Linked DNA regions of Homo sapiens: regions 1, 2, 3 and 4 are each linked to region 5. The links come from fine-mapping of genetic effects on plasma protein levels. A gene starts in region 5. Each other region holds a variant in brackets. All regions are shown on one strand. Distances are from middle to middle.

Region 1 (6,114 bases), 81 kb after region 5:
GACCCCAGGGACCCTGGTGGGAAGTATACAAGGCTGGATGGGCCCTGGATGGACGAGGGCAGGGAAAGCCGGCCAGAAGTTTCCTGAGGTGCTGACAGTGATGAGAAGCCCACAGGGCAGCTGCATTGCTTTGGCCTTCTCCGGACCCACAGCCCTCTCTCAGGCTCCCATCAGCCCAAGTTAGCAGCTACCTCTGAGCTCACCCACGGGAATCCCACCCCCTCCCAGAGTGACAAATTTTAAGCTAAGAAGAGGGAAAGGACTTGGGTGGAGAAAACCAAGTGTCCAGTCTGACTTGTCACAGCCAAAGCACTGCGCTGCAGGACATGGCTATTCCCCCCGACACAGCCTCTGACCCCTCCACAAGGCATGAATTGAGGTCGGGGGAGGCAGGCAAGCAGGCCAGACCATAGGCAGCTGATGCAGGGACTGGAGAGGCAAGAAGCCGATGCTGAGCTAGAAGCCTTCTGTGGAACAGGCTGGACCCCAGATGGCCTGGGATGCGGGGGCCTGGGTTGAGCGGCGGGGGCCACAGGCTGCTGCTGTACTGCCCATTGGACACACGGTTCAGGGTGCCTCAAAAGCCACTAAACACACGCCTCAACCTTCTGGTTGTCTGTGGCTTACCACTTGCCTGGAAACATTCACTCTAGGTCACATGATCTTCCTCCCAACCCACCCTCTTCCTCCTCCTTCTGGGAGGTGCCAACAGAGAGCCCCCTGGGAGCCTGGGCTGCTGGTGGAAGCCTGGCTGGAGGGGAGAGTCTCCCTAGAGTGGACTGACGCGCTGCCACCTCTGCAAAGCCTCACAGCGGCCGCCCCTTCACAGATGCAGAACTGAGGCCCAGAGAGCCGGGGACTAGGAGGTATCAAGTCCAAGGTCCAGCCAAGATGTCCTGCCTGCAGGCTGCCTCCCAGCTGCAGGCCTGCAAGGTGGGGTGCTGGGGGTGTGGAGGGCGAAGGTGGCACGGGTGCACCAGCAGCCCTTCTGGGCCAAAATACACCTGACCTGCCTGTACAGCACCCCAAGTCCCCTTGCTTAACCTGGGTCCCCCTTTTCTCTGAAAAATATGAGACTTGTTTGGTCCTTCCTTCGTTTATCCTTTCTTTTTTTCATTTATCAAATGCATGTTAAGCTCTCGCTAGTGCCACACCCTGTGCAAGAGATGGTGAGGATGATAAAATGATGATATGCTATCATGTCATCAAGGAGCTTAAGTCTAATAATACTAATACTAATAATAACTTACTGAATGTTTATTACATGCCCGGGATTGTGCTGCATGTACTACCTCATTTAAATTTCAAAACAATCCTATGAGATGGAGGAACTATTCTTATCCGCATTTGGCAGAGAAGGAAACTGGAGCTCTGAGAGGGGATGTGACTTGCCAGGGCTGCAAAGCAGGCAGGCAGGATGAGGGTTCTCATCAGGCGTCTGGCTCAGAGCCTCTTGGGGAGACAGACGCACAGCACAGCCCTGAGGCCTCTTGCCCTAGCACGTTATGCTTAATGTATGTCAAAATCACCCTCTTTATCTTACAGATGAGCAAACTGAGGCCTACGCAAAGTCACGGCTAGTTTGCAGTTGTGTCAGACCCCAGCGCTGTGGTTCTGATGCCAGCTTTTACCTCTGGCCTTCAGTTTCCTCTTGCTTGCCTGAACCTAGGCAGTTTCCTTAGATGATCCCCAAGTTCTGAAATTCTGATTGTATGATGTTAGCCTAAGACATGTTAGGGAGACAGAACAGAGAGGCAGGAATGGCTCAGCTGAAACTAGACCTGGAGCCCTGCCACATCCACAAGCACCCCGGGGAACAATCCTTGCCCAGTAGGGAGTTAAGAATGTTGAAATGCGGCCAGATGCATGGCTTATGCCTGTAATCCCAACACTTGGGAGACCAAGGCTGGTGGATTGCTTGAGGCCAGGAACTCAAGACCAGCCTGGCCAACATGATGAAACCCTGTCTCTACTAAAAACACAAAAATTACCCAGGCGTGGTGGCATGCACCTGTAATCCCAGCTACTTGGGAGGCTGAGGCAGGAGAATTGCTTGAACCCAGGAGGCAGAGGTTGTAGTGAGCCAAGATAGTGCCACTGCACTCCAGCCTGGGCGACACAGAGAGACTCAGTCTCAAAAAAAAGAAAGTGGAAATGTTTTCTTGCTTCAAGGCACGTGACTTTTAACTCAATTGAAGGAAAGTATGCGTGTATTGATAGAGATGGCCATCAGAGGAACTGACAGGTCTTAGCAGTTACAGATGAGTTTCCTCTAGAGGTCAGGGAAGAGGGAGAAGATACAAAGTTCTTTAACTTACAGTCTGAGGCAAAGGTGAACTTAACAGGGCCAGCAAGATCCTTACATGGTGAGGTAAGAGGGCCCAAATCAGCCAAGCTGCCACTTCTGCAGAGCCCGTGCCCTTCTCCACCTGTGTCGGTGGAGGCTATCAGCCTCAGCCCCTTGTCTGAGTTATCATAGCCTCGCTAGCATCTGTCTCAGCCCCAACCCTTCCAAAAGCCAGGGTGACCCATTCAGCTACTCCTTTGCGAGGAAGTGACAGCAGCCTGGCTGGGTTGTGGGTGGGGGAGTGGTTGGGGGTCTCTGTTGCCCTGGAAGGAATTCCTACAGTAAGCCTGAGAGCTCCTGGCCAAGTGTGGCTACAGAAAGGAACAAAATTTGGGGGGCTGAGGGCAAGAGAGGGAGAGGATTAGGGATGCTGCTCAGTTTCTCTTGATAAATGGATCCTGCTGCCTGAAGGATGGGGAGCTCCCAGAGTTGGGTGGAGCCATGAATGGGCCACCCAGGACGTGGGAGTGAGTAGTAAGAAAAGGGGGAAGGAGGTCAGGTGCGGTGGCTCACGCCTGTAATCCCAACACTTTGGGAGGCCGAGGTGGGC[G/A]GGTCACTTGAGGTCAGGAGTTCGAAACCAGTGTGGCCAATATGCTGAAACCCTGTCTCTATTAAAAAAACAAAAAAATTAGCCAGGCATGGTGGCAGGCCCCTGTAATCCCAGCTACATGGGAGGCTAAGGCAGGAGAATCACTTGAATTCGGGAGGCGGAGTTTGCAGTGGGCCGAGATTGCGCCATTGCACTCCAACCTGGGTGACAGAGTGAGACTCCATCTCAAAAAAAAAAAAAAAAAAAAAAAAGGGGAAGGAGCAGGACAACAGAGATGCTGGAGAGCAGCCTTCAGTTGGGGAGGGGCAGGAGATAGAGTGGGCATGAGGGCCTAGGCGGCCCTTTATCACAAGCTGTTCCTGTGTTCCCCTTGGCCAGTGACCCCTCTGGATGGATAGGATTCAGTGGGTTGTGGGGGGTGGGGTGCAGTGTCATCTACTTGATCTTGGGGGCCTTCCGTTCCGTCCTGGCCAGGGTCACAAGGAGAGAGTGGCATCCAGGCCTGCCGCTGGCACATGGCGACTGGTGACACTCCCCCTGGACACCCTCATGACGAGTGGAAGCCCTCCACCTCCTGCCCCAGATCTGGCTGCCACAGGTTGCTGCTGGGCCACAGTCCAGGGGCCACCGCACCTTGATGGGGAAGATTCCTGATTGCTGATTGCCCCCACCCCTCGTGCTCCCTTCACACATCCCTCCTTTGGAAGAAATCTGATTCTGAGAACTGGAAATTGTGCAGTGCTGTGAGTGACCAGGTGAAGATAGGTTAGAGAAGCCAGGGCTTGGAGATCCCTCTCTTTTCCCTGGGCACAGAGCAAGGGCCCAAGGATTGTAGACTTACCTGCCACCTCGCCTCTGGGGCTCTGCTGGCCTGTCACTATTCCCTGTCCTGAAGTAGTGTTCTCGACCAGGTCTGCAGGAAGAAACAACACAAGGGTTTTAAGGGCTGGGATCCAAAGTCCAGCTTATGGGAAGGCAGGTGAAGGACATGATTCCTGTGACCAGGGGGCCGGCCTGCTGGTCAGTTCCCTCCTCCTCCAGGGCTGTGCAAAGCCCAGAGATAAACCCTGGGCCAGAGGCTTTGTTCCCCGTCCAGGGCTGTGCAGAGCACAGAGATAAACCACCTAGACCGGAGGCCCTGTTCCCCATCTTTGGCCAGGTGAGCATTCTTGATGCCTGGCCCAGCCCCTGGCCCTCAGGGCACTATTTTGGTCCACATCCTGCTCTTATTGTCCTGGCCTGTTCTTCTCAGCCCCTGGTGACTCACACTGCTTTGGAATTTCACTCACTGGCCTTTCTGACGCACATCTTGAGAGCCTGGCCTACAGCCAGGGAACAAGTTATGGCTTCAACCCCACCAGTAATTAATTCTGGCTACCTGAGCTAGAGGCCATGGAAGGTGGGGAGAGGGAAGGCCACGAAGAAGCAAGGTAGGGGTGGTTGCTGGTTGATGGGAGGAGGCTTTGCTCCTACTTCTGCTCACCTGCACACAGGTAGAAAACAAACAGCAGAAAAGCTATCGGCTCACAGTGGCCGGACATCCGGGGCTGGCCAGCCGGGAGACATGTGAAGCAGGACTGATCTAGTGTAAAATCTAGACTGGCCATTATGCTTCTTGGAGTGGATTTCTGGACCTTAGTTTACCTTTTTGTGAGTCCTATAGGTTTGATAGCTCCTGATTTGGGATGCTAAGGACCTTTATACTGAGGTGATCATGCCTCCATGTCACTCCAAATTACTTGAGCTCTGTTTTCTCTCCATTTTCAATATGTTTTGACGGGTTGGCCCTGGATAGAATTCTGGAGAAGGGAAGAGAGAAAGAAAATTGCCATAACAATGCACTGGGGGCCAGGCGTGGTGGCTCATGCCTGTAATCCCAGCACTTTGGGAGGCTGAAGTGGGTGGATACTTTGAGTCCAGTAGTTCAAGACCAGCCTGGGCAACACAGCAAAACCCCGTCTCTACAAAAAATTAGCCAGGCATGGTAGCCCATGACTGTAGTCCCAGTTATCCAGGAGGCTGAGGTGGGAGAATCATCTGAGCGCAGGAAGTTGAGGCTGCAGCTGCAGTGAGGCACTGCACACCTGGGCGAAAAGAGTGAGACCCTGTCTCCCAGAAAAAAAAAAAAAAAAAAAAAAAGCAATGCACTGGGCTGGGAATCGAAGACCTGGATTCATTTCCAGCAACCCATTCCCTGGCAACCCCTTACCAAGTGCCTCATCAGTTAAATACGAAAGAGAGAGAGAGAGAGAGAGAGAGAGAGAAGTCCACCGTCCTTGCAGTGTTCCCTCCCATGGGTCTCTGATGTTCGCTGCAGTCACTGGCAGAGGCCCCCTGGTTCTCCACTCCTCTGGAAGGCAACTACTTTTCCCATCTCTTACTTAACTGTCCTTGACCTGCTTCCCCCTTCCAGCTTCCCAGGCTTGAGGGGTCCCAGCCTTGCTCCTGCGCCTGCTAGCACCTCTGTTGAGAAGGGCTTTGTGCCGCCTGCTGGGCTGACTCCTGTGGGTGCACTGGTGGGTAGGCCAGGGGAGAGCCTGAGTGGGTTCTAGAAACAATGCCCTTACATGTAACTCCAGCCCGAAGAGTGACTCCAGGCAGAGGAACGGCTGGCCAGGTCAGGGGCATTGGAGTGCCTGTGAAGACACACCCTGAGGTCTGGTCAATCCTCTGCCTTCTCATCAGGCAGGTCTGGCTGGGAATGTTCTATAGGGAATGCCGGAAAAGCATGCTTCCAGCCCTCCATCGCACCTTCCTCCCTGTTGGGAAAAGGGCTTGTGGGGCGCCTGCATAAACTGGCCATAAAAATATGGGACAATAAGTTGTGGAAAGCCACAAGAGGCCTCTGAGGAGGAAAGCCTCCTAATTGCCATCATGTTCCCATGCTCAGAGCGAGACCTGCTCTCTTATCTATAAACACTGTGTTCAAGGAGAAAGACACTCCTTTGAAGCATTGGAATGTGGACAGACGTGCAGCCTCCTAGTTAAGCACACTCCCACTAGCTCCTCTCCGATAAGTTAAAGATACGCTGTTTGAGCACAAAGGAGATTCATTTAAACCGCTATTGCTATAGATTACGCCTGTGACGCAGTGCCTCCCTTTCACTGTTTCACCCTGAACATCTGCTTCTTAGATCGAAGTGATTGTACTCAATAAATAGTGTGGAACCAGAACTCTGGGCCTTTTGCAGCCTCCATTTTGCAACTGGCCCCCTGG
Region 2 (5,936 bases), 45 kb after region 5:
CCTGAATTATTCTGAGTCTCTGTTTCCTTCTTCCAAGCCCATTTAGCAACCAATTCTTCCTTTTTCCCTTGCCTTTGCCCTTTTGCCACCTCCTTTGCTACATGTCAAATGTTTACTTTTTTCTCTCTTCCTCTTCACTCTTTTTTAAAAAAACAAACAAACAAAAAAAAACTAGATCTTATCCTTGAAAATGTCAAATGTTTATATGGGCAGAGATCTCTTCCACCTAGACTGTTTCTGTTTCTTCCTTGCATCTGTACCACTTTCTTTTTAAATAAAGAGAAGAGATTTTAAAAGGAAACAAATGAACAATGCCAATACTTCCTCCATGCTTATTAATGACTTTGAAGATTTTTTTTTTTGAGACAGGATCTTGCTCTATCACCTGGGCTGGAGTGCAGTGGCACCATCTTGGCTCATTGCAACCCCTGCCTCCTGGGCTCATGTCATCCTCTCACCTCAGCTTCCTGAGTAGCTGGAACTATAGGCATGTGCCACCGTGCCCAGCTAAGTTTTGTATTTTTTGTAGAGACGAGGTTTGGTCATGTTGCCTAGGCTGGTCTCGAACTCCTGAACTCAGGCAATCCACCCTCCTTGGCCTCCCAAAATGCTGGGATTACAAGCATGAGCCACCATGCCTGGCCTGATCATTTTTTGAAAGCAGGTCACCCATAGCCACACATCCACCAGAGTATGAAAAAACTTGATCATACCAAGAGCCTTCTTTACTCTTTCCCAGCCTTTTGGCCCTTCTTATTTCAGGTAACTACAGTGGATAATTTCTTGTGATTCTTTGCTAAACTCTTTATGCATATACCATCTAGGTACATAAATGCATATGTATTTATGTGGTATTGACATGAAAAGGATTATATCATGTACAACACCAAACAAAACTGTCTAATATGTTTTAATATCTTAGACAGCAAATATGTTTTCAAAATTATTTTTACACATCTTATAATTTAGAATTAGATAAAATTTAGAATTATAAGATTTTCTCTAGTACCCCTCCCGCCCACATAGTCACTAGACTTTACAAATATTAATTTAAATTAATACATGGTTCTAGGAATGATTGACATCCTTTCAACATTCAATTTTATTATCAAAGAAGATAATATTTCAAGTCAAGTGTTCTATTATGACTCAATCGAGATTTGGGAGTTTATTTCAGATAAATTTTTCCTATTCCTCATCAAAGCTGTTTCTTTGCATTTTGGGTCTTCTTGTAAGTCCATTTTCTAATTTATTATGTCTGCTGCTACTTTTCTTTTCTTTCTTTCTGAGATGGGTCTCACTCTTGTCACCCAGGCTGGAGTGCAGTGGTACAATCATGGCTCACTGCAGCCTTGACCTTCTAAGGCCAAGTAAGCTCGGACTTACCGGCTTCTGAGTAGCTCGGACGACAGTTTTGTGCCACTACACCCAGCTTATTTTATTTTATTTTATTTTATTTTTAGAAACAGGATCTCGCTATGTCGCCTAGGCTGGTCTCAAACTCCTGGGCTCAAGCAGTCTTCACACCTCAGCCTCCCAGAGTGCTGGGATTACAGGTGTGAGCCACCATGCCTGGCCTCTGCTATGTGGTTTAACATTCATCAGGGCTAGGTGCAGTGGCTCACGCCTGTAATCCCAGCACTTTGGGAGGCCGAGGCGGATGGATCATCTGAGGTAAGGAGTTTGAGACTAGCCTGGCCAACATGGTGAAACCCTGTCTCTACTAAAAATATAAAAATACGATAAAATAATTAGCTGGGCATGGTGGTGCACACCTGTAATCCCAGCTACTTGGGAGGCTGAGGCAGGAGAATCTCTTGAACCCAGAGGTGGAGGTTGCAGTGAGCCAAGATCGCACTATTGCACTCCAGCCTGGGAGACGGAGTGAGACTCTGTCTCGAAAAAAAAAAAAATCATCAAGACATATTCACTTTTGAGTATTACAAATTAAACCTTGGGGTTTTAAAAATATACACTCCTAATCTAAAATATTGACTGCTGTATCGGCCTCCTTCCGAGAGTCTTGCCCCTTTGTCTCCTGTCTTGTTGCCAGACCTTTCAGAACAATGTTCTGGAAGTGACGTGCTGCAGGTCTCAGAGCTGGCTGGTGGTCGGGGTCAGTACTGGACTGTAGGACTCCTGGCTCTGACCAGGACATTCCCCACTATGTGTTACAGGAACCGGCAGAAGCTGAAAGGTCTCAGAGGAGGAGGCTGCTGGTTCCAGCAAATGAAGGTGATCCCACTGAGAGTAAGTGTTTTGCTCCTGGAGATGCAGCAGGAATGGAGGGAATAGGGACAGGGTCCTAACTGCTGTCCCCAGAGGTCAGAGGGCTCTTCCAGAGTATTCCATGCTGGAAGCCGTGGGTCCTGTGCTATAGACCATCTGGACCCTAAACTGTCTTCTCCCATCTCTTCTCCCCACTCTACCTCATCCTCTCTGCACCCTATCATTGACCCTAATGACTCTGTCCGTCCCCTCATCCTCTCTCCTCCTTTGTTCAGGGCCTGATGTAGCCCCCGCCTGCCCCTGAGGACCTCCTGAGGGGCTGGCCTGTCCTGCACAGCACCACTAACCCCAGTGGGCTAAGGAGCTCTTGACCTGTGCCTCAGCCCAATTTGCAGAGCTGTTGTGTAAACTACATACGAATGCCAAAGACTTAATGCAAAAAAGAGTGGAAAATATTTCACTCATAATTTTTGTATATTGATTGTATATTAAATTATATTTTAAATATATTCAGTACCATACATTAAAATGAATGTCACTTGTTTCTGATGTTCTTTAAAATAAGGCTGTTGGAAAACATAGCCTCGTGTTCCTGACCCTGTCTATCTCTGAGGACGGCGAGGTGCATCATGTTGCACACACGTCTCATTTAATCCCTCATCGTCCCGAGATCTGGGCAGCATTGCTCGGTCTTTGGGTTCACTTCTTGCTCAGAGTCTGTTTGCCTCCACCTAGCTCTGCCCCAGCCCCAGGAAGTGAGGCCGAGCTGGGTGAAAACAGAGGTCCCCTGTCCCAGGCCCTGTGCTTTCCACAGATGCAGAAGTGGCCGCCCTGGGACCTGCTCCCATGACAAGCGCAGCCCAGGCAGCCTCCTCCCTCCTCTAAGCTCCCGCTGCAGCCACTGTCTCTCCCTCCCTCGGACTCTCACGCACTTTACTTTCTGCCTCTGTAACGTCCATCCATACTCCCCTGGTGGGTTCTCAGCCCTGTATGAGGGCTGATTCTCTGACGACTTTGACTCCCCGCAGTGCCTTGCGTGTGGGGGAGGCCAGGCAGTGTGGGCGCGCTCTCTGTGGATGGGAAGCGGGTGGGCACTGGAGCGGCAGGTTTGCCCGCACACGGGGCTCTCCAGGTTCCCCGCCTTGGGTTCTGGGCCTGATGTGGAATCCTCTGCCCTTTCTGAGTCCCAACTCACCTGGCTGTCTCTGTGGCTTTCTCCACCAGCTCTGAGACAGTGCTTCGATGACTTTGCAGACTTGGTGCCCTTTGACTCCTGGGAGCCGCTCATGAGGAAGTTGGGCCTCATGGACAATGAGATAAAGGTGGCTAAAGCTGAGGCAGCGGGCCACAGGGACACCTTGTACACGATGCTGATAAAGTGGGTCAACAAAACCGGGCGAGATGCCTCTGTCCACACCCTGCTGGATGCCTTGGAGACGCTGGGAGAGAGACTTGCCAAGCAGAAGATTGAGGACCACTTGTTGAGCTCTGGAAAGTTCATGTATCTAGAAGGTAATGCAGACTCTGCCATGTCCTAAGTGTGATTCTCTTCAGGAAGTCAGACCTTCCCTGGTTTACCTTTTTTCTGGAAAAAGCCCAACTGGACTCCAGTCAGTAGGAAAGTGCCACAATTGTCACATGACCGGTACTGGAAGAAACTCTCCCATCCAACATCACCCAGTGGATGGAACATCCTGTAACTTTTCACTGCACTTGGCATTATTTTTATAAGCTGAATGTGATAATAAGGACACTATGGAAATGTCTGGATCATTCCGTTTGTGCGTACTTTGAGATTTGGTTTGGGATGTCATTGTTTTCACAGCACTTTTTTATCCTAATGTAAATGCTTTATTTATTTATTTGGGCTACATTGTAAGATCCATCTACACAGTCGTTGTCCGACTTCACTTGATACTATATGATATGAACCTTTTTTGGGTGGGGGGTGCGGGGCAGTTCACTCTGTCTCCCAGGCTGGAGTGCA[A/G]TGGTGCAATCTTGGCTCACTATAGCCTTGACCTCTCAGGCTCAAGCGATTCTCCCACCTCAGCCATCCAAATAGCTGGGACCACAGGTGTGCACCACCACGCCCGGCTAATTTTTTGTATTTTGTCTAGATATAGGGGCTCTCTATGTTGCTCAGGGTGGTCTCGAATTCCTGGACTCAAGCAGTCTGCCCACCTCAGACTCCCAAAGCGGTGGAATTAGAGGCGTGAGCCCCCATGCTTGGCCTTACCTTTCTACTTTTATAATTCTGTATGTTATTATTTTATGAACATGAAGAAACTTTAGTAAATGTACTTGTTTACATAGTTATGTGAATAGATTAGATAAACATAAAAGGAGGAGACATACAATGGGGGAAGAAGAAGAAGTCCCCTGTAAGATGTCACTGTCTGGGTTCCAGCCCTCCCTCAGATGTACTTTGGCTTCAATGATTGGCAACTTCTACAGGGGCCAGTCTTTTGAACTGGACAACCTTACAAGTATATGAGTATTATTTATAGGTAGTTGTTTACATATGAGTCGGGACCAAAGAGAACTGGATCCACGTGAAGTCCTGTGTGTGGCTGGTCCCTACCTGGGCAGTCTCATTTGCACCCATAGCCCCCATCTATGGACAGGCTGGGACAGAGGCAGATGGGTTAGATCACACATAACAATAGGGTCTATGTCATATCCCAAGTGAACTTGAGCCCTGTTTGGGCTCAGGAGATAGAAGACAAAATCTGTCTCCCACGTCTGCCATGGCATCAAGGGGGAAGAGTAGATGGTGCTTGAGAATGGTGTGAAATGGTTGCCATCTCAGGAGTAGATGGCCCGGCTCACTTCTGGTTATCTGTCACCCTGAGCCCATGAGCTGCCTTTTAGGGTACAGATTGCCTACTTGAGGACCTTGGCCGCTCTGTAAGCATCTGACTCATCTCAGAAATGTCAATTCTTAAACACTGTGGCAACAGGACCTAGAATGGCTGACGCATTAAGGTTTTCTTCTTGTGTCCTGTTCTATTATTGTTTTAAGACCTCAGTAACCATTTCAGCCTCTTTCCAGCAAACCCTTCTCCATAGTATTTCAGTCATGGAAGGATCATTTATGCAGGTAGTCATTCCAGGAGTTTTTGGTCTTTTCTGTCTCAAGGCATTGTGTGTTTTGTTCCGGGACTGGTTTGGGTGGGACAAAGTTAGAATTGCCTGAAGATCACACATTCAGACTGTTGTGTCTGTGGAGTTTTAGGAGTGGGGGGTGACCTTTCTGGTCTTTGCACTTCCATCCTCTCCCACTTCCATCTGGCATCCCACGCGTTGTCCCCTGCACTTCTGGAAGGCACAGGGTGCTGCTGCCTCCTGGTCTTTGCCTTTGCTGGGCCTTCTGTGCAGGACGCTCAGCCTCAGGGCTCAGAAGGTGCCAGTCCGGTCCCAGGTCCCTTGTCCCTTCCACAGAGGCCTTCCTAGAAGATGCATCTAGAGTGTCAGCCTTATCAGTGTTTAAGATTTTTCTTTTATTTTTAATTTTTTTGAGACAGAATCTCACTCTCTCGCCCAGGCTGGAGTGCAACGGTACGATCTTGGCTCAGTGCAACCTCCGCCTCCTGGGTTCAAGCGATTCTCGTGCCTCAGCCTCCGGAGTAGCTGGGATTGCAGGCACCCGCCACCACGCCTGGCTAATTTTTGTATTTTTAGTAGAGACGGGGTTTCACCATGTTGGT
Region 3 (5,000 bases), 46 kb before region 5:
ACCCTGAGGAAGGGGGATGAGAAGGGGAACTAGAGTAAAAACCAACACACGGAAAATCTCTGTGTTCTGCTCTGACCAAGGCTGAATAAATCCCGTGACCACTTCTCATCCTCACCCTTGTCACCCAGTTGAGGAGCCGACTGCCCCCTGCCTGGCTGGGCCTGAAGATGGGAGGAACTGGCCCTGCCCTCTTGGACTTGGCTGGGAGATGTGTGGACCCCCAGCTCCAGGAGAGGGACTGATGAGACCAGGGTCCTGGGGGGTGCACGGGATGTGGGGATGGGACGATCACAAGGAGGAAGATAGAGCCAGGCTGGAGACACCAGGACTTGGGGCAGGGGCAGGCGTTTCTGTCTGTGGGAACACAGCAGAGGGAGGCAGGGCAGAGAGTGTCCAGCGCCCCCCGCCCTCAGCCAGCGCCTACCTGAACCTTTCAGGTAAGGAAGGAATTTCTTCCACAGTGAAGTCTTTCAAACAAACACAATCAGAAGCACAATTAGAACTATGATCCCTACGATGGTGCATGAGAGGTAATGAGAAGAGGCAGGAGTCCCCGGGCTGGTGATCATTGTCTCTTCAGCAGCTGGGGCAGGAGTCCCCGGGCTGGTGGTCATTGTCTCTTCAGCAGCTGGGGCAGGAGTCCCCGGGCTGGTGGTCATTGTCTCTTCAGCAGCTGGGGCAGGAGTCCCCGGGCTGGTGTTCATTGTCTCTTCAGCAGCTGGGGCAGGAGTCCCCGGGCTGGTGTTCATTGTCTCTTCAGCAGCTGGGGTTTCCACAGTGGCATTGGCACCAAATTCTTCAACACACTGGATATCATCCCAGGACGTACAATTACTGACTTGGACTTCCCCACTAGGGCACCTGGGTACACACAGAGAGGGAGGTGAGGACTCCTGAGGGAAAGCTAGCCAGGTGGGATAAAAGGGGAGCCACCCTCCCTCTCCAATGTCCCTGAGAAGGTGTCAGGGGAAGGACAGGCTCCTGTCTGGAGGGGGTCCCCCAAGTTCCCTCGTTGAGGCTGGGGAAGGGTCTGAGCATGCGCATTTCAGCCCCTCAGCCTCCCTGCTCTGGGGCCACAGGAGCCTTCTGTGCCGGGCACACACTGAGCTTCCCTGGGCTGCAGAGGAGGCCTGCGTTAGGAGGAGCCACACTCCAGGGGAAGGTCACGAGCCCTTGTGGCCACAAGCTGAGCCCCTTCCTCCAGTCAACCCACAGTACAAGTGATCTCTCACCCCCAACTGTCTGCTGGTTCCTCCCTATCACGGCAAACATTAGGGGGCCAGAGAAGAACAAATTACTCTTGGCCCTTAAAGCCCAAATAGGGAAAAGACAGGACTTATTGAGGGATTGGGGCCAGGGGTGAGGCCGGCTGGATTGGCTCAGGCCTTCATGGGAACTTGAAGGAGCTCCACCCACAGCCTTCTTATGACTTTTGTCGGCCGTGACCACTTTTGTCTTTATGGGTCCTGCCTGCATAAAAAATATTAAAAAGAACATTTTTTAAAACAGCTTGGTATAGCAACAAATACAACCCAGACTGGATTCAAGTGTTTTCTTCTCATTTCAAAAGGAAATCGCATTTCCTAGGTTTGCTGAAAAGGATCAAGGGATCCAGAAAGTTGCTTCTTGTGCCCAGTGAACAAGTTGGTCTGGCCAAGGGGACTCGTGCTGGGGAGGGTCTGGGAAGGGGCTGCTGCAGGGGGTAGGGGTGGGGACAGGCAGATGGACCAGGAGCGGCCACTGCAGACCCAAGAGACCCCACAGGCTCAGGGACACCCCATGGGTCTGGAGGCTCCATAGGGTCAGCGGAGAAATAGGGGTACCAGGTGACTCAGGTCTTCTCGGGTTCCTGAAAGCTGTCAGGAGCCCCTGACTGCTGTCTCACCTGCTACACTTCCGGCACATCTCTGGGGAGTTTTCATTCCGGAAGGTGCCTTCTTTACACTGACACACTGTGTCTCTGGTCATGGTGCAGGAACTTTTATGTTTTTGATCTGACAACAGAGCATAAGGTTTTGGGAATGTGTTTCCCTGATGTATCCCTCGATCTTCCTTACCACCCACCCCCTCCCACTCAGCTCAACCAAGTTCACCAAGGAGTTCTAAGGGCCAGTTTCTGCACCAGCACACTCAGGGCTCATACAGGACACCCACCCTTCAGCTGTCACCAGCACTCAGAGGAGTCATAAAAAGGAGCATAATTCATTATTTATTACATCAGATTAGGGGAAAAGCATTGTTTAGATGGCATGGTCAGTAGCAAGGGAGGTGCAAGGGCATCACCTGAGAGACTCTGCAAGGAGACGGAGGCCTTGGGGGACTTCCCCAAAGCCTGGGCCTGCTGGGGAGGAGGAAGGGGCCTGAGAACCTGAAGGCTGAGTGAGGCCGAGCACCTGCCAGGAGCACAGAGCCTGGGGGAGAGAGCCTGGCCCTGGAGCAGACCCGTGCCACTACTGAAACCTAGCCCTGTCCACTGGGCCAGGCCTTCTCTATGCTCTAATGATCCCCCCACCCTCTTGCAGCTGACAGTTTAGACGATTTCCCAGCCAGGTGGCATGCATTATAGAAAAGATTTCTTTCTATTTTTTTAATCAGTCAAATATATAATCATAGAACAGGGTGATGAAGACCAGGTTGGGCTGGAACTTGGTTCCCTGACTCATATCGGCTACAACTCCCACCTCATTGCCCCACGCTCCACCTCTGGACAAGAGGTCCACACATTCTGTACCTGATTTACAAACTGTACATGGGAAGCAAGAAGGTTCATTGTTGGAAGCGTTGGTGTAATCCACACCCTCTGTGCA[C/T]GGGTTACAGGCTCCAGTATGTTCTGATCTATGAGATCCTGGGAAGGAAGAGAAAAGCCAATGAATGAGTCACCACAGAATTCCCAGAGGCTGACAGTGGTGGGGAAACTTCTTTTTTGGCCCTCACTGGAATTGAGACAGAGAAATCCACTCTTCCAGGCTTGGTCTTGTCATCCATTCAGCATCTATTACATACCTTTGACTGGCACTGCTGACAGAAATATAATACAAAATTCAAATTCTATGCAAAATTCAAATTCTATGAGAGCCATATTAAAATAGTAAAAAGAATGAGGCCAAATTAATTTTAACAATATAGTTTTAACCTAAAATATCTGAAATACTACATTTCAACATGTAATCAATACACATCATTGAGATATTTTACTTTTTTTACGCCGTCACTCACAAAATAACATCCAACCTACTGTACATGTGATCTGCCCATGCTGGTCCACCTGACCTGTTTGCTGTCCACTCACCACAGTGGCCCCCTGTCTTCGCTCAGTCTCCCCAAGCCCCCGAAACCTGGGGTTCTCATTCCTTCAGGGCCTTCTCAAGAGCACTCTTCCTGGCTCTCTGCAAGACTGGCCCTGTCCAACTTTAAATATCAGCCCAAATCACCATCCCCGAGAGGCCCCACCAACCTTGTCTATCTCCTGTCACTTAACTATTCTTCATGGTTCCCATCAGGACATCCTGACTGTTATGTATATTCATGTGTCTTTTTTTTTTTTTTTGAGACAGAGTCTTGCTCTGTCACCTGGCTGGAGTGCAGTGGCACAATCTCGGCTCACTGCAACCTCCAACTCCCTGGTTCAAGCGATTTTTCTGCCTCAGCCTCCCGAGTAGCTGGGATTATAGGCGACGCACCACCACGCCCAGATTTGTATGGAACTACAAAAGACCTCAAATAGCCAAAGTGATCTTAAGCAAAACAAACAAAAGAACAAAGATGGAGGCATCGTACTACCTGATTTTAAAACGTGTTACAAAAGTATAGTAATCAAAACTGAATGGTAATGGCACAACAATGGTAAATAAACTGATGGAACAAAATAGTGAACCCAGGTATAAATCAATGCATTTACAGTTGATTGATTGTGAGAAAGATACCAAGAACACAAAATGGGGAAAGGACAGCTCTTCAATAAATGGTGTTGAGAAAAGTAGGTATTGACATGCAGAAGAATGAAATAAGACCTTTATCTCACATCATATGTAAAAATTAATTCAAAATGGACTAAAGATTAAAACATAAGATCTGAAATGGTAAAACTACCACAAGAATACATAGGGGAAAATTTTCATGATGTTGGTCTGGGCAATGGTTTCTTGACTATGACCCCAAAAGCACAGGCAACAAAAGGAAAAACAGACAAATGAGGTTACATTACACTAAAAAGGTTCTGCATGACAAAGGAAACAATGAACAGAGTGAAGAGACAACCTACAGAATGAGGGTCAATATTCAAAAGATCCAAGATTTTGGTTAAAATCCAAAATACACAGGAACTCAAACATCTCAATAGCACACAATCAAATAATCCAAGTAAAATGGATACATGGGCGTGGGACCTGAATAGACACTTCTCAAAAGGAGACATAGAAGTGGCCAAAAAGTATATGAAAAAAATGCTCAGCATCACTAACCATCAAGTGCCAAATATCACTTCACACCTGTAAGAATGGCTATTACCAAAAAGACAAAAGGTAACAAGTGTTGATGATGGGGAGAAAAAGGAATGCTGGTACACTGTTGGTGGGAATGGAAATTAGTACAGCCATTATGGAAAACAGTATGGAGGTTCCTCAAAAAACAAAAAATAGAACAACTATATGATCTAGCAATCCCACTATTGGGTATACATCCAAAGGAAATGACGTCAGTATATTGAAGAGATATCTTCCCTCCCATATGCATTGGAGCATTATTTACAATGGTCAAGACATGGAATCAACCTACGTGTCCATGGATGGATGAAAAGTTAAAGAAAATGTGACACATAGATACAATGGAATACTATTCAGCCTTTAAAAAGAAGGGAGTTCTGTCATTTGTGTCAGCATGGATGAAGCTGGAGGATACTATGCTAAGTGAAATAAGCCAGGCACAGAAAGGCAAACACCTCATGATCTCACATATGTGGAATCAGAAAAAGTTGGTCTCATAGAGGTGGAGAGCAGAATGGT
Region 4 (6,114 bases), 25 kb after region 5:
TTTGATCATGATTGCCTTGGCTATTTGTGTTTTTTTTTTTTTTTTTTTATGGTTGCATATGAATTTTAGGATTGTTTTCTCTATTTCTATGAAAAATGATATTGGAATTTTGATAGTGATTACATTGAGCCTATAGATTGCTTTGGATAGTATGGACATTTTAACAATATTAGTTCTTCCAAGTCATGAACATTTATTTTCATGCATTTGTGTCTCTTTCCGTTTTATTTGTCTCTTCTGTTTTGTTCATTAGTGTTTTACGGTTTTTAACATACAGGTCTTTCACTTCCTTAGTTAAATTTACTAATTTTTTTTTGTCATTGCTCTTAATAGGTTTGTTTTCTTAATGTCTGTTTCATATAGTTCATTATTAATATATAGAAATGCTACTGATTTTCATATGTTGATTTTGTATCCCACAACCTTACTGAATTTGTTTACAAATTTCTAACAGTTTTTTGGTGGAGTCTTCAGGGTTTTCTATACAGAAGATCATGTCATCGGCAAATAGACAATTTTACTTCTTCCTTTTCTATTTGAATACCTAATAATTCTTTTCTTTTTCTTGCCTAATTGCTCTGGCTAGGACTTCCAGTACCATGTTGAAAAGAGGTGGTGAGAGTGAGCATCCTTGTGTTGTTCCTGATATTAAAGGAAAAGCTTTCAGCTTTTCACTGCTGAGTATGATATTAGCTGTAAGCTTGTCATATAAGGCTTTTTTTGTGTTGATACATTCCCTTTACACCTAATTTGATTAGAGTTTTTATCATGAAAGAATGTTGTGTTTTGTCAAATGCTTTTTCTACATCTAATGAGGTGATCATATTGTTTTTGTCCTGCATTTTGTTAATATGGTATATCACATTTATTGATTTTCATATGTTGAACCATCTTTGCATCCCAGGAACAAATTCCATTTTATCATGGTCAATGATTCTTTTAATGAGCTATTGAATTTGGTCTACTGGTATTTTATTGAAGATTTTTGCATCTGTGTTTATTAGAGATATTGGCCTATAATTTTCTTTTCTTACAGTGTTCTATTCTGGCTTTGGTATCAAGGTAATGCAAGCCTTGTAAAATAAGTTTGGAAGTAGTCCCTCCTCTGTAATTTATTTGGGAAAGTTTAGAAAGGATTGGTTTTAGTTCTTGTTTAAATGTTTTGCTGAATTCAGCAGTGAAGCCTTCTGGGTCCTGGGTGTTTCTTTGATAGGAGACTTTTCATTACTGATTCAATATCCTTAATCATTATTGGTCTGTTCGGATTTTCCATTTCTTCATGATTCAGTATTGGTAGGTTGTATGTGTCTAGAAATTTATCCATTTCTTCCGGGTGGTTCAATCCTTTGGCATATAATTGTTCATAATATTTTCATATGATCCTTTGCATTTCTGTGGTATGCATTGTAATGTGTCTCATTTTTTTTTTTATTTGAGACAGAGTCTCCCTCTGTTGCCCAGGCTGGAGTGCAGTGTGACAATCTCAGCTTACTGCCACTTTCACCTCCCAGGTTCAAGTGATTTTTGTGCCCCAGCCACCCAAGTAGCTGGGATTACAGATGCACACCTCCATGCCTGGCTTTTTTTTTTTTTTTTTTTTTTTGTATTTTATTAGGGACGAGGTTTTGCCATGTTGGCCAGGCTGGTCTCCAACTCCTGGCCTCAAGTGATCCATCCGTCTCGGCCTCCCAAAATGCTGGGATTATAGGCATGAGCCACTGCACCTGGCCTCCTCATTCATTTTTGATTTAATTTATTTGTCTTCTTTCTTTTTTCTTAGTTAGTCTAGTTAAAGTTTAGTGATTTCATTTATTTTTTCAAAAAACTAACAGAATTTTGATAATCTTTTGTATTTTTTTCAGTCTCTATTTATTTTTGCTCTGATTTTTATTATTTCTTTTGTTCTGCTAACTGTGGGCTTAGTGTATCTTTTCTTCTATTTCCTTGAGGTACAACATTAAGTCTTGTATTTGAGATCTTTCTTCTTTTTTGATGTAGGCGTTTATTGCCATTTCCTCTTAAAACTGCTTTTGCTGCATCCCATACATTTGGTTATGTTATGTTTCCATTTCATTTTCTAATATACTCTTAAAATTCCCTTTTGATTTCCTCTTTGACACATTGGCTATTCAGGAGCTTGTTACCATTCAAGTTCTTTGTTCATTTCTTAATCACATTGTTGGCTTTTTGTTGTTGTTGTTGAGTTGGAGTTTTTTATATATTTTAGATATTAACCTTTTATCAGATATACAACTAGCAAATGTTTTCCTCTTCCTGTGGGTTGCCCCTTCACTGTTGATCATCATTGGATGCACAAAAGTTTTTAATTTTTACATAGTGCAATTTATCTACTTTTTTTCCTATATTGCTTGTGTTTTGGGGATCACATTCAAGAAATCATTGCCAAATCCAAGGTCAGGAAGAATAGTTCCTATGTTTTCTTCTAAGTTTTAGGGTTTTCACTTTTATGTTAGATTTTGGATCCATTTTGAGTTAATTTTTGTATACGTGTAAGTTAAAGGTCCGAGGTCATTGTTTTGTGATGAGTCAATGTCTAGATTTCCCAAGACCATTTTTAAAAAGATTGTCCTCTCAATTAAATGGTCTTTATACCTTTGCCAAAAATTACTTGATCATATACAGTCATGCACCACATAACAACATTTCTGTCAACAACAGACTGCATATGTGATGGTGGCTCCATGCAATTATGTAACATGCTACACAGGTTTGTAGCCTAGGAGCAAAAGGCTATACCATATAGGCCAGGTGTGTCATAGGATACACCATCTAGGTTTGTGTAAGTACACTCTTCTGATGTTCACACAACACAATTGCCTAATGACCCTTTGCTCAGAACAATGTTGAGCAATACATGGTTGTACGTGCAAGTTCATTTCTGGGCTCTCTGGTCTATATGTCAGGCACCTTTTAAATCAGAAGTTCACTATTTAATGTTTGATCCTGTATCCCAATTTTTTAAGTTTGCTATATTATAACCCCCATTTATAAAAATGTGTGTCTGTGTGTATGTCTGTGTGAGAGAGAATAAGAGAAAGAGAGAAAGAGAGAATAGGCATACCTATGGAAAAATAGTGGAACTAAATGAGACAAAATATTAATGGATGCTATCTTTAGCTGAGAATATCACGTGTGGTCTGTGTATTCTTGTAAAAACTTTCCTTGCCCACATTTTCTGGAATGAACATGTTTAGAAGAGTTTTGCAGGTGTATGTTACTTGGCCTTCCCTGAAATATGAAGGGACAAACAAACACTAAAGGATGTTTGAGAGGTGAGAGCTGCAAGAAAGATGAGGGTTCTGTTTAGCTTGGGTGCCTGGGCTCAAGAGAATGTGAGTGGATCCTGGGAGGGGTGAGGTCTGGAAGCCACTCATGCCCATCCCTGCTTTGTCCCCACAGGTCTCAGCTGAGTCTGCTCTGATCACCCAACAAGACCTAGCTCCCCAGCAGAGAG[C/T]GGCCCCACAACAAAAGAGGTCCAGCCCCTCAGAGGGATTGTGTCCACCTGGTATGTTCAAGATGGGTCTCTAATCCTTGCCCCTCCTCCCCTTGTCTCCATGAGCTTCCAGTCTGTTTCCTTTGCACTTCCTTGTTCTTTATTCCACAGAGAGGCATTGGGTGCCTCCAGTTCAAGGCTCTGTCCTTCTGGAGCCTTCCTGCTAGGATGGTATCAAGACACACAAATGAATGAGACAGCCAAAGAAACTGATAGGAACCTTGAGAGAGAATTGAGTGGGACAGAGATGGGGCTGGTGAGGCCTCCAGGCAATGGTGACTTTGGGCTGACATCCGGAGGAGGGCAGGGCCAGAGGTTCAGAGAGCCAGGAAGAGTGCTCCTAGGAGGGTTCCACTGGAACAATTGCCAGGGGGCAAGAGTTGGAGAAGATGGAGCAACAGCAGGGGGCTGCTGTGGGGAGTGGAGGGTTAGGAAGTTAGAGAGACACGTGGGGTCAGATCCCACACAGATGAAGCTGGATTTTATTTCATGAGTGATGGATGTCCCTGAGAAGTTTTCAGCAGAGGGCCACCAGCATCGGATGTACATCTTGAGTGCCCACTCCTGGACTGAACCGGAGCAAGACAGGAAGCAGGTGGAGGGCCTTGAGTGTGAGGCGCTCCCCTGGGATGTTATGTGGTGTCCCGTAAGGTCATTTGAGCCCCCAGAGATGCAGCAGGAACCTGGCCTGAAGTGTGCTTGACTGTTGTGTTCGCCTCGCACTTCTTCCCCCTTTTCCCCCATGTGTATGAGTTAGGAATTGATTGCTGCATGAAGGTTTCCAGGGCAGGCAAGTGTGGCAAGCAGTGGCTTTTAAAATCCATTTACAAAGTTGCATTTCTTTTCCATGACTAAGGGCCACAGGAAAGGCTTGCCTGAGGGCAAACCCTCACATTGCACATGTGGGCTTGCCAGGAGCAGAGCATGGAGAAGGAAGAACCCAGCGTGAAGCAGACACAAACTCATCTGTAAATGCTCCTATTGCTGTGGTCCAGGGTCAAGACCAGGAAGCAGGACGGGAATAGGAAGGACTCAAGACATATTTGGGGTGTGGATGGATGACGTGTGGGGAATGAGGACAATCGAGGCACCAAATTCAACTGCTCAGGGTAACTTGGCCTCTGAGGGGACAGTGTGTGGCAGGGCTAGCAGTACACATTTGGGGACCCTAGCACATAGGTGATGCTTGAAGCCGCTGTCTTGAGTGTGTCCACCTGGAAGAAGTTGTAAATACTGAGGAGGGGCACAACTGAGCCCATGAGGATTTGAAGTTGGAGACGATAGGCCAGGGAGACAGGACTGCAATGGGCTGAGCAGGAGCAGTTGGAGAACTTCCATCCTAGAGGAGAGATGGCCCTTCCAGCCACAGGGAGCAGGCCATAGCAAGTGTCAAGGACTGAGATGTGGAAACTCCTCGAAATGTGCATTTCTCTTCCTGTGAATGAGGTCAAGAATCTGTTCATGACACAGACACTGTTTGTACACTGGTTCTCCTAGGTTTTCTTCACTCCTAGTAAGAGGTTAGGTTTTTTTTTTTTTTTTTTTTAAATCATTGAGTCACATGAATTCTTACAGATTAGGGAAATTATACATTGATTGATTGATTGATTGACTGATTGAGATAGGATTTCACTCTGTTGCCCAGGCTGGAGTGCGGTGGCAGGATCATAGCTCACTGTAGCCTCAACCACTTGGGCTCAAGCGATCCTCTCACCTCGGCCTTCCAAAGTGTTGGGATTACAGGCGTGAGCCACTGCGCTGGGTCCAAAATTCTAATAAAAATTCCCATATAACGCCGGGCGCAGTGACTCACACCTGTAATCCCAGCACTTCGAGAGGCCAAGGTGGGCAAATCACTTGAGGCCAGGAGTTTGACACCAGCCTGACCAACATGGCGAAACCCTGTTTCTACTAAAAATACAAACATTAGCTGGGTATAGTGGCGTGCCTGTAGTCCCAGCTACTTGGGAGGCTGAGGCAGGAGAATCGCTTGAACCCGGGAGGCAGAGGTTGCAGTGAGCTGAGATCACGCCATTGCACTTCAGCCTGGGTGACAGAGTGAGACCCTGTCTCAAAAAAAAAAAACAACAAAAAAAAAATTATCATATATCTTTGCAGTCATTTTGTGGTTTCCTATTTTGTAATTAAGTCATTGAGCCACATGGACTTCATTTTGTAGTAAGAGGAGAGTGAGGAAGACACATTATTATTTGACAGCCACCTTTTTGGTTGCCCCAACACTATTATTAAATAATCACGTTTTTATCAGTGACATGAATCACTATGATTATGTATGATACTTACATTATTAAGTAAGGTTTGTGTAATTTGGATTTTTTAGAATGTCTTTCAATATTAATAAAAATAATTCAGGAATCTTGTGGCTAGCATATAGGTGATTATGGTCTATTTTTTGCGTTTGTTTTTACTCATTCTGCCACTCTCTGCCTTTTAATTGCAGAGTTTAAACTATTTTCAATTAACATAGTTATTGACAAGAAAAGATTTGTTTCTGCTCTTCAGTTATTTGTTTTCTTTATGTCTTATATATATTTTGTTCCTCCCTTATCACCTTTTGAAAAAACTTTAGTTTATTTCTT
Region 5 (6,114 bases):
CCTGCAGAAGTTTACACAGGGCTGCTGAAGATTTTTATCCCCTCATTTTACAGGAAGGAGCTGGGGCCATACCAGAGTCAGAGCTGGACCGGGAGCACGGCAGGGCCCAGCCATCCACAGCCTCCAATTTCAGTACTCTCTAACAACCTGAGAGCCTGAGCCTTCGGATCTTCTTGATTCCTACTTTGATAAAGAGAGGGATGGGGTTGGAAGGACCTGGCATAGAGATTGGACCAGTCCGGCATTGACAGAGCCAGGACCTGGGGTCCGGAACTGAGCTCAGCTCCAGGCTCATCTGAAGTCACCCTGACAGCCTGAGGATGGAGACCTTATTTCCATTAACAGGCATGGCGGTTGGCAGGGACTGGCCCCAGCTGAGCACGGTTTTCCAAGTACACAGCTGGGAATTAAGTCTTCTCTGCCGCCCTCCCCTGTAGTCTTGCCTGGATCCCCCCAGTCATCTACTCCCAGTACCAAAAACTCCTGTATTCTTGAAAATCCGTAGTACTGAGAGGTGACAGCTTGCTGGCAGTCCTCAACAGCCCTCGCTCGCTCTCGGCGCCTCCTCTGCCTGGGCTCCCACTTTGGCGGCACTTGAGGAGCCCTTCAGCCCACCGCTGCACTGTGGGAGCCCTTTTCTGGGCTGGCCAAGGCTGGAGCCCGCTCCCTCAGCTTGCACGGAGGTGTGGAGGGAGAGGCGCGAGCGGGAACCGGGGCTGCGCGCGCGGCACTTGCGGGCCAGCTGGAGTTCCGGGTGGGCGTGGGCTCGGCGGGCCCTGCACTCGGAGCAGCCGGCCGGCCCTGCCGGCCCCGGGCAATGAGGGGTTTAGCACCCGGGCCAGCGGCTGCGGAGGGTGTACTGGGTCCCCCAGCAGTGCCGGCCCACTGGCGCTGCGCTTGATTTCTCGCCGGGCCTTAGCTGCCTTCCCGACGGGCAGGGCTCGGGACCGCCATGCCTGAGCCTCTCACCCCCTCCGTGGGCTCCTGTGCAGCCGGAGCCTCCCCGACGAGCACCTCCCCCTGCTCCAGGGCGCCCAGTCCCATCGACCACCCAAGGGCTGAGGAGTGCGGGCGCACGGCGCGGGAGCACGGCGCGGGACTGGCAGGCAGCTCCACCTGCAACCCCGGTGCGGGATCCACTGGGTGACGACACCTGGGCTCCTGAGTCTGGTGGGGACGTGGAGAACCTTTATGTTTAGCTAAGGGATTGTAAATACACCAATTGGCACTGTGTATCTAGCTCAAGTTTTGTAAACACACCAATCAGCACCGTGTGTCTAGCTCAGGGTTTGTGAATGCACCAATTGACACTCTGTATCTAGCTAGTCTGGTGGGGCCTTGGAGAACCTTTGTGTCCACACTCTGTATCTAGCTAATCTGGTGGGGAAGTGGAGAACATTTGTGTCTAGCTCAGGGATTGTAAACCACCAATCAGCGCCCTGTCAAAACAGACCACTCCGCTCTACCAATCAGCAGGGTGTGGGTGGGGCCAGATAAGAGAATAAAAGCAGGCTGCCAGAGCCAGCAGTGGTAACACTGTGGAAGCTTCCTTCTTTCCCTCTGCAATAAATCTTGCTACTGCTCACTCTTTGGGTCCACACTGCCTTTATGAGCTGTAACACTCACCTTGAAGGTCTGCAGCTTCACTCTTGAAGCCAGCGAGACCACGAGCCCACCAGGAGGAAAGAACAACTCCAGACCCACTGCCTTAAGAGCTGTAACACTCACTGGGAAGGTCTGCAGCTTCACTCCTGAGCCAGTGAGACCACGAACCCACCAGAAGGAAGAAACTCCGAACACATCCGAACATCAGAAGGAACAAACTCCAGACACGCCGCCTTTAAGAACTGTAACACTCACCGCGAGGGTCCGAGGCTTCATTCTTGAAGGCAGTGAGACCAAGAACCCACCAATTCCGGACACAGTACCATGAAGGAATGAAAATACATAACAATGTGATGTATCATGTTTTATTTCCTAGACTAGTGACAAATGAAAGCTAAGTGTAGCAAGGGTGCAGGGACACAGGCACATTTGTGGACTAGGTGTGAGTGTAAGCTGGGTTCGATGGTCTTTTGGCCAACATAGTGAACCCCTGTGTCTACTAAAAATACAAAAATTAGCCAGGCGTGGTGGTGCAGGCCTGTAGTCCCAGCTACATGGGAGGCTGAGGTGGGAGTATCGCTTGAACCTGGGAGACGGAAGTTGCAGTGAGCCGGGATCACACCACCGCTCACCAATCTGAGCCACAGAGAGACTGTCTCAAAAAATAAACCACAAGGAAGGGAGGTAGGGGGAGGGGGAGGGAGGGAGGAAAGAGAAAGAGAGAAAGGAAGGAAAGAGAAAGCAGGAAGGACGGAAAGAAGACGAAAGAACGAAAGAAAACGAAAGAAAAAAGGAAAGAAGAGAGAAGGAGAGAACAGAAGGGGCAGGTGCCCCTGGGAAGGGGAGAAGATCAAGACGCGCCTGGAAAGCGGACTCTGAACCTCAAGACCCTGTTCACAGCCAAGCGCGCGACCCCGGGAGGCGTCAACTCCCCAAGTGCCTCCCTCAACTCATTTCCCCCAAGTTTCGGTGCCTGTCCTGGCGCGGACAGGACCCAGAAACAAACCACAGCCCGGGGCGCAGCCGCCAGGGCGAAGGTTAGTTCCGGTCCCTTCCCCTCCCCTCCCCACTTGGACGCGCTTGCGGAGGATTGCGTTGACGAGACTCTTATTTATTGTCACCAACCTGTGGTGGAATTTGCAGTTGCACATTGGATCTGATTCGCCCCGCCCCGAATGACGCCTGCCCGGAGGCAGTGAAAGTACAGCCGCGCCGCCCCAAGTCAGCCTGGACACATAAATCAGCACGCGGCCGGAGAACCCCGCAATCTCTGCGCCCACAAAATACACCGACGATGCCCGATCTACTTTAAGGGCTGAAACCCACGGGCCTGAGAGACTATAAGAGCGTTCCCTACCGCCATGGAACAACGGGGACAGAACGCCCCGGCCGCTTCGGGGGCCCGGAAAAGGCACGGCCCAGGACCCAGGGAGGCGCGGGGAGCCAGGCCTGGGCCCCGGGTCCCCAAGACCCTTGTGCTCGTTGTCGCCGCGGTCCTGCTGTTGGTGAGTCCCCGCCGCGGTCCCTGGCTGGGGAAGAGCGTGCCTGGCGCCTGGAGAGGGCAGGGAGAGAGGGGGACACGGCGGGGGTGCGTGGCCCGGGTCGCCTGCGGCCGGGCATGTCCGGGCAAGACGCACCAGTCGTCGGAGTCGGGGGAAGAGATGGGTCCCCGGGTTGGGCAGGAGCGACCTGGGCCGCCAGGGAACAGAGCGCGCGCTCCACTTGGTGTAAATTCCCGAATCCAGTGGGGGAGGGCGACAAGGAGGGAATTCCCGAGTAAGCTGCGTGAAGCCACGGAGAGGTCGTCGGACTTTGATTTTGTTTTCTTTCCTTACTTTCTGTTTCTTTCTCTTTTTCTCTTTCTTCCTTTCTTTCCCTCCCTTCCTTCCTCGCTCAGTTCCTGCCTTAATTTCTTTTTCTTTTGCGCCTTCGAATGAATTCCTAAAGGCGCTCATTGCAGATCGCTTTGAACCTGCGGCCGGCGAAGAACTCCCCTGTGGTCGCTGCGGCCCAGTGGTTCCGTTCCGTGCGCGGGAGTCGTCGCGGGCGCAGCTGGAGAGGCCCCTTCCCCTCCTTAGCGGCTGCGCCCCTACGCGTGCGGGGCCGCTCATCGCCAATGCCATTGTTTGGGGTTCCTTGGGAAAACGAGATTTAGGAGAAGGGAGTTGTGGCACTTGGGGCCTGACCTGCTTGATAATAGCAGCTGCATTTTGGCCTGGGAAGAGCCTTTCTTGCCACCTCTTGGCAAGTATCCGTGATAATGGGGAAGGGACAAAGAGTCGGCTTTGTAGGGAACAGCATGGTGTGCTCAGCGCCTGGAACTGCGCTTGGGGCCAGGAGAGGTTCTGAATCATCACATTTTACAGAGGAAGAGACCGCAGCTCAGAGTGGGGAAGTGTGTGGGCCTAGACCTAACTCAAGACTGTACAGAGGGGCTGGAAGGGAGAGGAGGAACAGTGAAAGGAAGGTCAAGAGAATGCTGGTGTTGACCTAGAAGAATGTCAGTGTGAAGCATTGGAGTTTCATGGGATATTGTTACACACCTCATGTTTTCACTGTTTCCGCCCCACACCACAGTATGTCCTTGGTCTCACCTCTGAGTGGAGGGAGGACCTAACTGTCCTAGTGAGGAGAGTGTACAGGGGCCTCTGCCTCCCCCTCCTGCTGTGGTTTCTGTGGGCCTAGGTCCCCAGGGCATCTTGCCTCTCTTTGGGTGGTGGATCTTTGGTCTCTGGCTGCTTTTAAAGATTTTTCTTAGCACTGGTTTGCAGTGATTTGGTTTGTTTGCTCTGTTGTGGGGTTTTTTTTTTATCTCTATAAAGAATTTTTTGGATTTTTGGCTTTAGACTTTCATGTTCTTTCTACTTGGAAGATTTTTCTGTAAAGAAAGCCACAACTGGGTTGTGTTGAATTTCTTGGATTTGGGGTTTTAGAGTTTATGTTCTCCTTGGAGACTTTTCTGTAAAGAAAGCCACAACAGCCGGGTCTGGTAGCTCATGCCTGTAATCCCAGCACTTTGGGAGGCCGAGGCGGGCAGATCACATGAGGTCAGGGATTCGAGACCAGCCTGACCAACATGGTGAAACCCCGTCTCTACTAAAAATACAAAATTAGCTGGGTGTGGTGGTGGGCACCTGCAATCCCAGCTACTTGGGAGGTTGAGGCAGGAGAATCACTTGAACCTGGGAGGCAGAAGTTGCAGTGAGCAGAGATGGCGCCACTGCACTCCAGCCTGGGAGACAAGAGCAAGACTCCAACTCAAAAAAAAGAAAGAAAGAAAGCCACAACAGAGTTATGTTGAATTTCTTGGATTTGGGGTTTTAGAGTTTATGTTTTTGTTTGTTTGTTTGTTTGTTTTGAGATGGAGTCTTGCCTCTGTCGCCTAGGCTGGAGTGCAGTGGTGGGATCTCAGCTCACTGCAACCTCTGCCTCCTGGGTTCACGCCATTCTCCTGCCTCAGCATCCCGTGTAGCTGGGACTACAGGCATGCACCACCACGCCCAGCGAACTTTTTGTATTTTTAGTAGAGACGGGGTTTCACCGTGTTAGCCAGGATGGTCTGGCTCGTGATCTGCCCGCCTCAGCCTCCCAAAATGCTGGGATTACAGGGGTGAGCCACCACGCCCAGCCGAGTTTATGTTCTACTTGGAAGATTTTCAGCCATTATTTCTTCAAATACTCTGTCTCTTCTGGTGACTGAGATCTTATTATATTTACGTTAGAATGTTAGATTTTGTATCAGAGCTAACTTAGTATCTGTTCTTTTTTTTCCCCCATCATTTTCTATGTTTCACTTTGGACATTTCCCTGTGAGGGCTCTTCAAGTTCATTGATCTGCTTCTGCAGAATCTAACCTGCTGTTAATCTCATCTACTGTATATCAGATATATATTTTTTGAACTTTAGAAGTTCTCTTTTGGCATTTTTAATATCTTCCATCTATTTCCTGGTCATCTTTGTGTTTTTCTTTTTTGAGACAGGGTCTTACTCTGTCACCCAGGCTGGAGTGCAGTGGCACAGTCAGAGTTCACTGCAGCCTCAACCTCTTGGGCTCAAGTGATCCTCCCACCTCGGCCTCCCAAGTAGCTGGGACCACAGGCACTTGCAACCACACCTGGCTAATTTTTGTATTTTTAGTAGAGACGGGGTTTCACCATGTTGCCCAGGCTGGTCTCAAACTCCTGCGCTCAAGGAATCCTCCCACCTTGTCCTCCCAAAGTATTGGGATTACAGGCCTGAGCCACCGTGCGCAACCTATGATTTTGGTGGTGGTGTTTTTTGTTTTTCTGTTTTTTAAATATTCTTGAGTATATTTGTAAGCTTTAGATGACCTGTTTTAAGTTATTTAATCTATCAACACCATTATATCTGTTATTACGGCCACTGTTTCTGTTGATTACATTTTTTTTCCTGCCCATAGGGACTTTTTTTTTCATGCATAGTAATTTCTTATTGCTTGACATTGTGAATTTTGCTTTCTTGGGTACCGAACATCACTGTGTTCTTTCA

Which allele goes with the higher level. Positions count from the first base shown, and alleles are read on the strand shown. Strength reflects both the effect of a copy and how common the allele is. Not every link is listed here.
In carriers of allele A in region 1, the plasma level of the protein whose gene starts at base 2,830 in region 5 tends to be higher than with G alone (weak association).
In carriers of allele C in region 3, the plasma level of the protein whose gene starts at base 2,830 in region 5 tends to be higher than with T alone (moderate association).
In carriers of allele T in region 4, the plasma level of the protein whose gene starts at base 2,830 in region 5 tends to be lower than with C alone (weak association).

The links. PIP is the chance, under the fine-mapping model, that this variant and not a neighbour inherited with it causes the effect. The UK Biobank Pharma Proteomics Project read protein levels with antibody pairs (Olink). The fine-mapping took linkage between variants from a reference panel, not from the people measured, so its PIPs are less certain.
Region 1: its variant is fine-mapped to the plasma level of the TNFRSF10B protein (UK Biobank, PIP above 0.99).
Region 2: its variant is fine-mapped to the plasma level of the TNFRSF10B protein (UK Biobank, PIP above 0.99).
Region 3: its variant is fine-mapped to the plasma level of the TNFRSF10B protein (UK Biobank, PIP above 0.99).
Region 4: its variant is fine-mapped to the plasma level of the TNFRSF10B protein (UK Biobank, PIP above 0.99). The variant lies in the coding sequence of TNFRSF10B. If it changes the protein, the assay may bind it differently, which can mimic a change of level.

The regions. Positions count from the first base shown.
Region 1 is chr8:22,985,188-22,991,301 of GRCh38, reverse strand. The region is part of intron 1 of RHOBTB2-AS1 (RHOBTB2 antisense RNA 1); the gene reads left to right. It also overlaps a transcript of RHOBTB2 not described here. Among named protein-coding and RNA genes, the nearest start is that of RHOBTB2, 11 kb to the left of the region's middle. RefSeq lists an enhancer at 2,854-3,610. The variant G/A (reference allele first, on the strand shown) is at 2,898.
Region 2 is chr8:23,020,502-23,026,437 of GRCh38, reverse strand. TNFRSF10B (TNF receptor superfamily member 10b) reads left to right here. Exons shown (of 9, transcript NM_003842.5): 8 at 2,178-2,250; 9 at 3,454-5,936. The coding sequence ends at 3,767. Among named protein-coding and RNA genes, the nearest start is that of RHOBTB2-AS1, 24 kb to the right of the region's middle. The variant A/G (reference allele first, on the strand shown) is at 4,217.
Region 3 is chr8:23,112,502-23,117,501 of GRCh38, reverse strand. It overlaps TNFRSF10C (TNF receptor superfamily member 10c), which reads right to left. Exons shown (of 5, transcript NM_003841.5): 3 at 2,732-2,845; 4 at 1,886-1,994; 5 at 57-861. The coding sequence ends at 471. Among named protein-coding and RNA genes, the nearest start is that of TNFRSF10C, 12 kb to the right of the region's middle. The variant C/T (reference allele first, on the strand shown) is at 2,808.
Region 4 is chr8:23,040,550-23,046,663 of GRCh38, reverse strand. It overlaps TNFRSF10B (TNF receptor superfamily member 10b), which reads left to right. Exons shown (of 9, transcript NM_003842.5): 2 at 3,421-3,526. Among named protein-coding and RNA genes, the nearest start is that of TNFRSF10B, 25 kb to the left of the region's middle. The variant C/T (reference allele first, on the strand shown) is at 3,476.
Region 5 is chr8:23,065,747-23,071,860 of GRCh38, reverse strand. TNFRSF10B (TNF receptor superfamily member 10b) reads left to right here and starts at 2,830. Exons shown (of 9, transcript NM_003842.5): 1 at 2,830-3,110. The coding sequence starts at 2,967. It also overlaps the pseudogene TNFRSF10B-AS1. RefSeq lists enhancers at 510-1,009, 1,331-1,625, 2,407-2,576, 2,597-2,646, 3,187-3,446, a cis regulatory region at 2,840-2,845 and promoters at 2,300-2,970, 1,738-5,451.